2 linked regions of the Homo sapiens genome follow. The protein of the gene in region 1 interacts with the protein of each later gene in a pairwise test. Each region holds a gene or a part of one and is shown in the gene's direction. Other genes may lie near its edges.

Region 1 (3,827 bases):
CCAGCTGTTAGAAAGCTGGGAGTTTGCAGGAAGTTTCTGTATAATCACAGCTTATATGTACCCATATGCTTGTGAAGTTATATTATCTTTTAATAGAGATATGAAAAACTCAAAATGTTCTTCCTACTGCCGTACCACACAGTACAATACTTGTGACATCAGACATGTAAGGGTTGTTGCCCCATACACCAGATACTTCTTCAGTGGACACCAGCTGCATGTCCTCTTATTCAGTTCAATTCTGACACTGTCTGCCTGAAGATAGCATCAGATCCCACAGGTTAAGGACTCAGTCCCACAAGAGTGCCACCAACTTCAGATGCCCATTACAAGTAGTAGATTGCCACCTATACTTCTGACCACCAAGCTATAAATTGGGACTCCCACTGCCCCCTCCTTGGGTTCAATTAATTTGCTTGAGTGGGTCACAGAACTCAGAGAAATACTACTTACATTTTCCCATTTATTATAAAGGATATTACAAAATAAACAGCCAGAGGAAGAGTTGCATAGGGCAAGGTACGTGGAAAGGGGTATGAAGTTTTCATGCTCTCGCCAGCATGCCATCTTCCAGACACCTCCACATGTTCAGCTAATTGGAAGTTCTCTGGACCCTGTCCTTTTGGGGTTTTATGGAGGCTTACTTATGTAGGCGTGATTGCTCACATCATTGGCTACTGGTTATCAAATCAATTTTAGCTGCTCTCCCCTCCTTAAAGGTTGTGGGGTTGGGCTTAAAGTCCCAACCCTCTAAACATGCCTTAGTCTTTCTGGTGACTGGCCCCCATCCCAAAGCTGTCTGGGTGTCACCAGTCATCTTATTAGTAAACGAAAGACACTCTTATCACTGTGGAGAACCCAAAGGTTTTAAGAGCTATGTGATAGGAAACAGGAGGAACATCAAATATATAGGTTAAAAGAGAAATTATCAACACATTAAATTTAACAGTTTAATTGAACAAAGAATAGTTCACAAATTGGGCAGCCCTCAGAACCAGAAGAGATTCAGAGAGATCCATTCTGCAATGTAGGCAGGCAGCATTTATGGATAGAAAAGGGAAGTGAGGTACAGAAATAGCTTGATTGGTTATAGCTCTGTGTTTACCTTATTTGAACATGGTACGATCACTTGACTGCCTGTGATTGAAGCTCAGCTGCTATGATTGGCTGAGACTCAGCTATTACAAAAACATACTCCTAAGTTAGGCTTTCAGTTAGTTTACCTTCTAAGTTAGGTTGCAGTTCATTATGTAGAGACTTAAAGTACAGAGGCACTTTCAGGCAAAATTTAGTTTAATTTAACATACAGTCATGTGTCCCTTAATGACAGAATTTGCTCTGTAAGATGCGTTGTTAGACAATTTCATCATTGTACAAACATCATAGAATGTACTTACACAAACCTAGATGGTATAGGATAGCCTGTTGCTCCTAGACTACAAACCTGTACAGCATGTTACTGTACTGAATACTTTAGGCAGTTGTAGCACCATGGTAAATATTTGTGCATCTAAACATAGAAAAGGGGCTGGGTGTGGTGGCTCACACTTGTAATCCCAGCACTTTGGGAGGCCAAGGCACGTGGATCACAAGGTCAGGAGTTCGAGACCAGCCTGGCCAATATGGTGAAACCCCGTCTCTACTAAAAATACCAAAATTAGCCAGGCGTGGTGGCACGTGCCTGTAGTCCCAGCTACTCAGGAGGCTGAGGCAGGAGAATCGCTTGAACCCAGGAGGTGGAGGTTTCAGTGAGCCGAGATCGTGCCACTGCACACCAGCCTGGGCGACAGAGGGAGACTCCCTCTCAAAAAAAAAAAAAAAAATAGAAAAAGTACAATAAAAATATGGTATAAAATGTAAAAAAAGTATACCTGTATAGAGCACTTACCAGATGAATGGAGCTTGCAGGACTGGAAGTTTCTTTCCCAGTTAGTCGGTGAGTGAATGTGAAGGTGTAGGACATTACGGTACACTACTGTAGACTTTATAAACACTGTACACTTAGGCTACACTAAATTTATTAAACATTTTTTCTCTCTTCAATAGTAAATTAGCCTTAGCTTGCTGTAATGTTTTTACTTTATAAACTTTAAACTTTTTAAAAACTTTTTGACTGTTGTAGTAAAACTTAGCTTAAAACAAACACATTGTACAGTTGTACAAAATTAATTTCTTTATAACCTTATTCTATAAGCTTTTTTCTATTTTAAAAACTTTTTTACTTTTTAAATGTTTTCTTAAAAACTGAGACGCAAACACACACATTAGCCTAGGCCTGTAAGGGTCAGGATCATCAGTATGACTGCCTTTCATATCTTGTTCCACTGGAAGGTCTTCAAGGGCAATAACATGCATGGAGCTGTCATTTCTTATGATAACAGTGTTATGTTCTGGAATACCTCTTGAAGGACCTACCTGCCTGAGTCTGTTTTATAGTTAACTATTTTTTAAAAAATAAATAGAAGGAGTACACTCTAACAATGAAAAGTATGGTATAGTAAATACATAAGCCAGTAACACGGACATTTATTACCAAGTACTATGTACTCTACATAATTGTATGTGCCAGGCTTGTGTACACCTTGTAGCACAGTAGGTTTGTTTACACCAACATCACTACAAACATGTGAGTAATGTGTAGCACTATGACATTATGACATATATGATGTTACTAAGTTATAGGAATTTTTCAGCTTTATTATAATCTTACGGGACCACTGTCATGTATGTGGTCCGTTGTTGACCAAAACATTGTTATGTGATGCGTGACTGTATGTATTTCACAATATCACATATATGAAGATGTTTGTCATTCCACTATCCCTTTCTAATATCAATTTATATAGCATTAAGACTTGAGCTACTCTAAATCCTTGGATTAAAAACTACTTTAACCTAATATCTTATTTCATTAAATTTTTTTTCTAAAAAATAATTTCTGTTTTCACATTTTCAGCAGTGACTATAGGGGAAATTAAGGTACTAAGCAAAGATAGCATCATTATTAATGTAGCCTTGCTCGAGATCTATACATCTTATAATATTTTTTGTCCAAAAGTTTGTAAAGTTTATAATTTTTGTACTGTTTTTAGACTAAATGTACTTATAAGAACAACTGTGTATCATGAAAATCATTTTTGCATACACCTAACCTTGCAAATGTAGGACTCTTGATGTTAAGGACTAGTATTGCTCATGCAGACATTTTTTGTTGAGATACTAACTAGTACATTTTACATTTTATGTTATTTATGATTAACTCATTCAATAAATGTTAATTATTTACCATTTGCTAGGCTCTGTTCGAGGCCTACAGTGTGCTATATACTGTACGCACACTGTAGGCACAGCACACTGTATGCCTAGGATAGAAGAGGATGTCATTTTTTTTTTTTTTGTGAGATGGAGTCTCGCTTTGTCACCCAGGCTGGAGTGCAGTGGCGCGATCTTGGCTCACTGCAAGCTCCGCCTCCCAGGTTCAAGCTATTCTTCTGCCTTGACCTCCTGAGCACCTGGGATTCCTGGCGCTTGCCACCACGCCTGGCTAATGTTTTGTATTTTTAGTAGAGACGGGGTTTCACCATGTTAGCCAGGATGGTCTCGATCTCCTGACCTCGTGATCTGCCCGCCTCAGCCTCTCAAAGTGCTGGGATTACAGGCATGAGCCACTATGCCCGGCTGAGGATGTAATTTTTAAGGACTAATCAAGTCACAGTGCTAAACCATTCTGAGCCTTAATGGTCATGAACTTTACCTTTCTTTCATATAGGAAAAGAAATATTTTTATATGAAAACATTTAAAGGAATTTGACCAAGGTCTCTTTCAT
Region 2 (3,827 bases), on another chromosome or scaffold:
TCAGCAAGGTCATATGAGTCAAACTTGGCGAAAGCTCATATAGAACTGACTTCTCCAAAGCGAAAATGTTTTCGCTCACCATTCAAGGTTTGATGAAAAACACATTTTGAGTTTCAGAACACCTGGTATGTTTTTATGCCAAGGTTAAAGAAAGAAGTTCCCACATGGTTTCTCACCTGGGAAAATATTGAATAGCTGAGAAATGGAATAAATAAGTTTGTAGGTCTCACAGTTTTGAGAGCTAACATGGTGGGTTCAAAATAACCCCAAGCATGTAGATTCCAAAGAAACATGAGAAGGCAGGAATGAAGATGGTGAACTAGAGAGCGGTTCCAGTTCAGGGGGCCATGGGCAGTGGTGTGCTGGAGCTGCTTCTCCCGGCTTGAGAGAGCTGATCATGCACATCTCTTCCCATTTCATTGCTCAGGGACATCATACTGCTGCCTTGAAATTAGCTATGATGGGAGTATTTACACCACAGAAATCGGCATGCATTACATAAGATAGTAATTTAGGGTCACCCAGTTGTTAAATATTTCCCAGATCACACTGTATAGATTTCTTTTTAGATTACGAGCCAGGAGTTAAGAACTTAACCTTAAACTCCAAGAAATGATCATAATGAAATGTTAAGAAAATTGAGCTTCCTATTATTTGAAGGTTATTAAATGTGCCCTGCTTACATTGAAAGGATATGAATATTTTCTACAAAACTGTCAGGAGCAGGCTTCTGAATGTTTTGACTACATCTTCAATAATAGTTTGTTCCCATTTAAAAAATCCTCAGTCTTTATTTATTACTGTGATTTGGAATTTGCTTCATCTTTATTGTTAAATCCCTCTTGCACCTCTGGAATATTCCCTAATGTGTTCTAACTGGACTTGAATCCACTTGGCAGGAGGTCTGTTATAGAGATCAGTCGAGCCCTGAAGGAGCTCTTCCATGAAGCCAGAGAAAGGGCTTCCAAAGCACTTGGATTTGCTAAAATGTTGAGAAAGGTGAGCTTGCAATCCTGATTAATTAGTACCTTTTTTCTTGTTTTTCTTTTATCTTATTTTTTTAATGCTAACCGTAAAGAAGTTTCTTTGTAACTGTGATCCTAGGACCTGGAAATAGCAGCAGAATTCAGGCTTTCAGCCCCAGTTAGAGACCTCCTGGATGTTCTGAAATCAAAACAGTATGTCAAGGTAAGTACTTCAAATGTTGTGATTGAAACATTTTGCCTTTCCTTCTTTATTCTAAAACAGGCAGACTTTTTCTTGAAGGTCCAGATAGTAAATATTACAGGCTCTGAAGGCTGTACCACAACCCCAGTTGTAAGACTGTCCTGTAATTCACCAGTGGAATAATGAAACAGTCTTTTTCATACTTGACTTACTAACTTGTCTTCAGAGTGTAGATAAATAATAAAAAGTTTACTCATGCTGTTTATTAATTTAGTTACACATATTTAAAATAATGTGTATAAGGAGATAATATTCATTTTAAATTATGGTTTTGTTTTTCACCCTTATATTTCCTGATGCAGTTCAAAGGTTTTACAGTGAATCTTTGACATCAAGATCCTGGTCATCACTAGAGCCACTTTTTGAGTCAGCAACTTTACTCCACTTTAAGTTGTTGGAGATTTAGCACAGTTAGAATCCGTATGTGATGTCATCACTGGACATTTTATCCCAAGCCCACAGTTGTATCCCGCTCCCATACTGAGAGTGGGAGGGATGACCTGCAGCGTGCCACCACATGTGTACCCTTTGAGAAACTGATCTCAAGGAGCCTTCTTGTGATGAACCCCTGGCTCCCTGCCCTGGAATAATTAGAGAATCTGTATTAACAATTTTTGCCTTTTTCCCAAGCCAGGTGACTTTTTGTAAGCATCACAAACTAGCAGTGGTTGAGGTTCTTTCAGGCTGCCTTGCCTCCCCGTCGAGTATTTTCTTTGTTGTTGAAAATAAAGCAGTGAGGAGGATGTCCAATAATCGGGGAGACTCTGTAAGGCCTCTCCTCCAGTGCGTTCACAGACTCTCCTCCTCCTGCCTCCTTCAGTCACACTGAAGCCGGCTACCTGCAGTTCCCTCACTGCTCCAATTCATGCCCTTCCCACTTTCCCTTTCCCAAACCTGCCTCTCCTTTCCTAGGTTTGTTTTAAATAACCTATTTCTCTAATGTACAGTGTTCCTTAAGATTTTGGATTATGTCTTTTGCAGGTGCAAATTCCTGGGTTAGAAAACTTGCAAATGTTTGTTCCAGACACTCTTGCTGAGGAGAAGAGTATTATTTTGCAGTTACTCAATGCAGCTGCAGGAAAGGACTGTTCAAAAGATTCAGATGACGTACTCATCGATGCCTATCTGCTTCTGACCAAGCACGGTGATCGAGCCCGTGATTCAGAGGACAGCTGGGGCACCTGGGAGGCACAGCCTGTCAAAGTCGTGCCTCAGGTGGAGACTGTTGACACCCTGAGAAGCATGCAGGTACAGCTCATCTCCATCTTTGCAGCAGTGTTACTTCAAGGACTTTTAGTAAGAATGAACTGTTAGCTGCTCATGAATGAGGGGTTTGACTACCCTAGTAATCACAAGTATATACTTCCCAAAAATATGCCTCAATGTGTTAATAGGTCATTTTGCAGCATAATTTGTACAATATATCATTCTGTTAAGTTAAATTATACTGGAATACTTGAAATAAACCATCTATCTGGTTTATATCTTTTCTTAGTTCAGTCATGTAGTTAGATCTGTGGAGCTATGATCTAAAAGGAGTTATGTCACTAATATAATTTGTAGTTCTAGAAATCCCAGTTCTCCAAGTACTCAGGTTTACTGGTTATTTAATTTTAATTTTTTGTAGTGAAGGCTATCCCCTCCCTACCTAACAGGGACCTCGTGACAGTTTCTATAACTCATTAGTTATAAACTATGAGAAGCTTTCTCATTTATCTGTGTTCAGCTTAGGAACAGTCATGGTGAGTGTTCATATGCACCTTGAGCTCAGCCTCACCAGAACTGAGTATACACTGGCCTGCTGTATCCCTCACCCCAACAACTCTGCTTTTATATTCCGTCTCAGTGAATGGTTCCGCGTTCACTCACATGTTTAAACCAGAAGTGTGACAGCTAATATAAATTCAGCCTCCCATCTTTCCAGTTAATACCTTGCCCTGGAAAGCCAGAAGCATTTCCAGTAAATGATCCTTTCCCTGCATCCCCAGAGCAGCTGCTGTAGTCAGCACTTTACCATCCCTCTCCTGAACTATTGCAGTTTCTGACTTTGAGTTTCCCTGCTTCAAACCTCACCTTCTGTCTCTCCAATTCTGTGTTTGTTTTTGTGCTTCTAGAATGATCATTATAATACATCTGATTGCATCACAGATCTACTTAAAATACTGCAAAGATTCTTCATCTCTTAAGAACAAAAGTAATAAAGTCTTGATTTCTTAATGTTTTATATAAGGCCCCTCATCTTATTTCTGTCTTATTCCTACATTTTCCTTCTTCATATGCTGCTCCAATACACACACACATGCACACATACACACACACACTCACACACACTCTGCACTGGCAGTACTGAACTACTTGAAGTTCTAGGATATCTCAAAGATGTCATGCCTGCAGTCCCAAAGGGTTCTTCTCCGTGGTGCTGAATATCCCAGCTGTCAATGCCCACTGAAGCGTGTTGCTGTGTAGGAGAAGCTTTGCTTAAAAATGACTTTCTGATTAGATGGTTGTTGGCCTGGTATCCCTGAGATTGGCATTGTTTTTGGACTGGTGTTGAACTAGAATAACAACTAGTAACTGGGTTGGTTTTTATGTCCTGTGCT

What was found.
Region 2: the proteins of CNTRL (region 1) and MAP3K4 interact in a two-hybrid assay, tested with the Homo sapiens proteins (one large-scale study listed by BioGRID and IntAct).

The regions. Positions count from the first base shown.
Region 1 is NC_000009.12:121,081,164-121,084,990, forward strand, and holds part of CNTRL (centriolin), read left to right. Parts: intron 1-3,827. UniProt on the Homo sapiens protein: Involved in cell cycle progression and cytokinesis. During the late steps of cytokinesis, anchors exocyst and SNARE complexes at the midbody, thereby allowing secretory vesicle-mediated abscission.
Region 2 is NC_000006.12:161,085,480-161,089,306, forward strand, and holds part of MAP3K4 (mitogen-activated protein kinase kinase kinase 4), read left to right. Parts: intron 1-899; coding exon 900-999; intron 1,000-1,104; coding exon 1,105-1,188; intron 1,189-2,208; coding exon 2,209-2,475; intron 2,476-3,827. UniProt on the Homo sapiens protein: Component of a protein kinase signal transduction cascade. Activates the CSBP2, P38 and JNK MAPK pathways, but not the ERK pathway. Specifically phosphorylates and activates MAP2K4 and MAP2K6.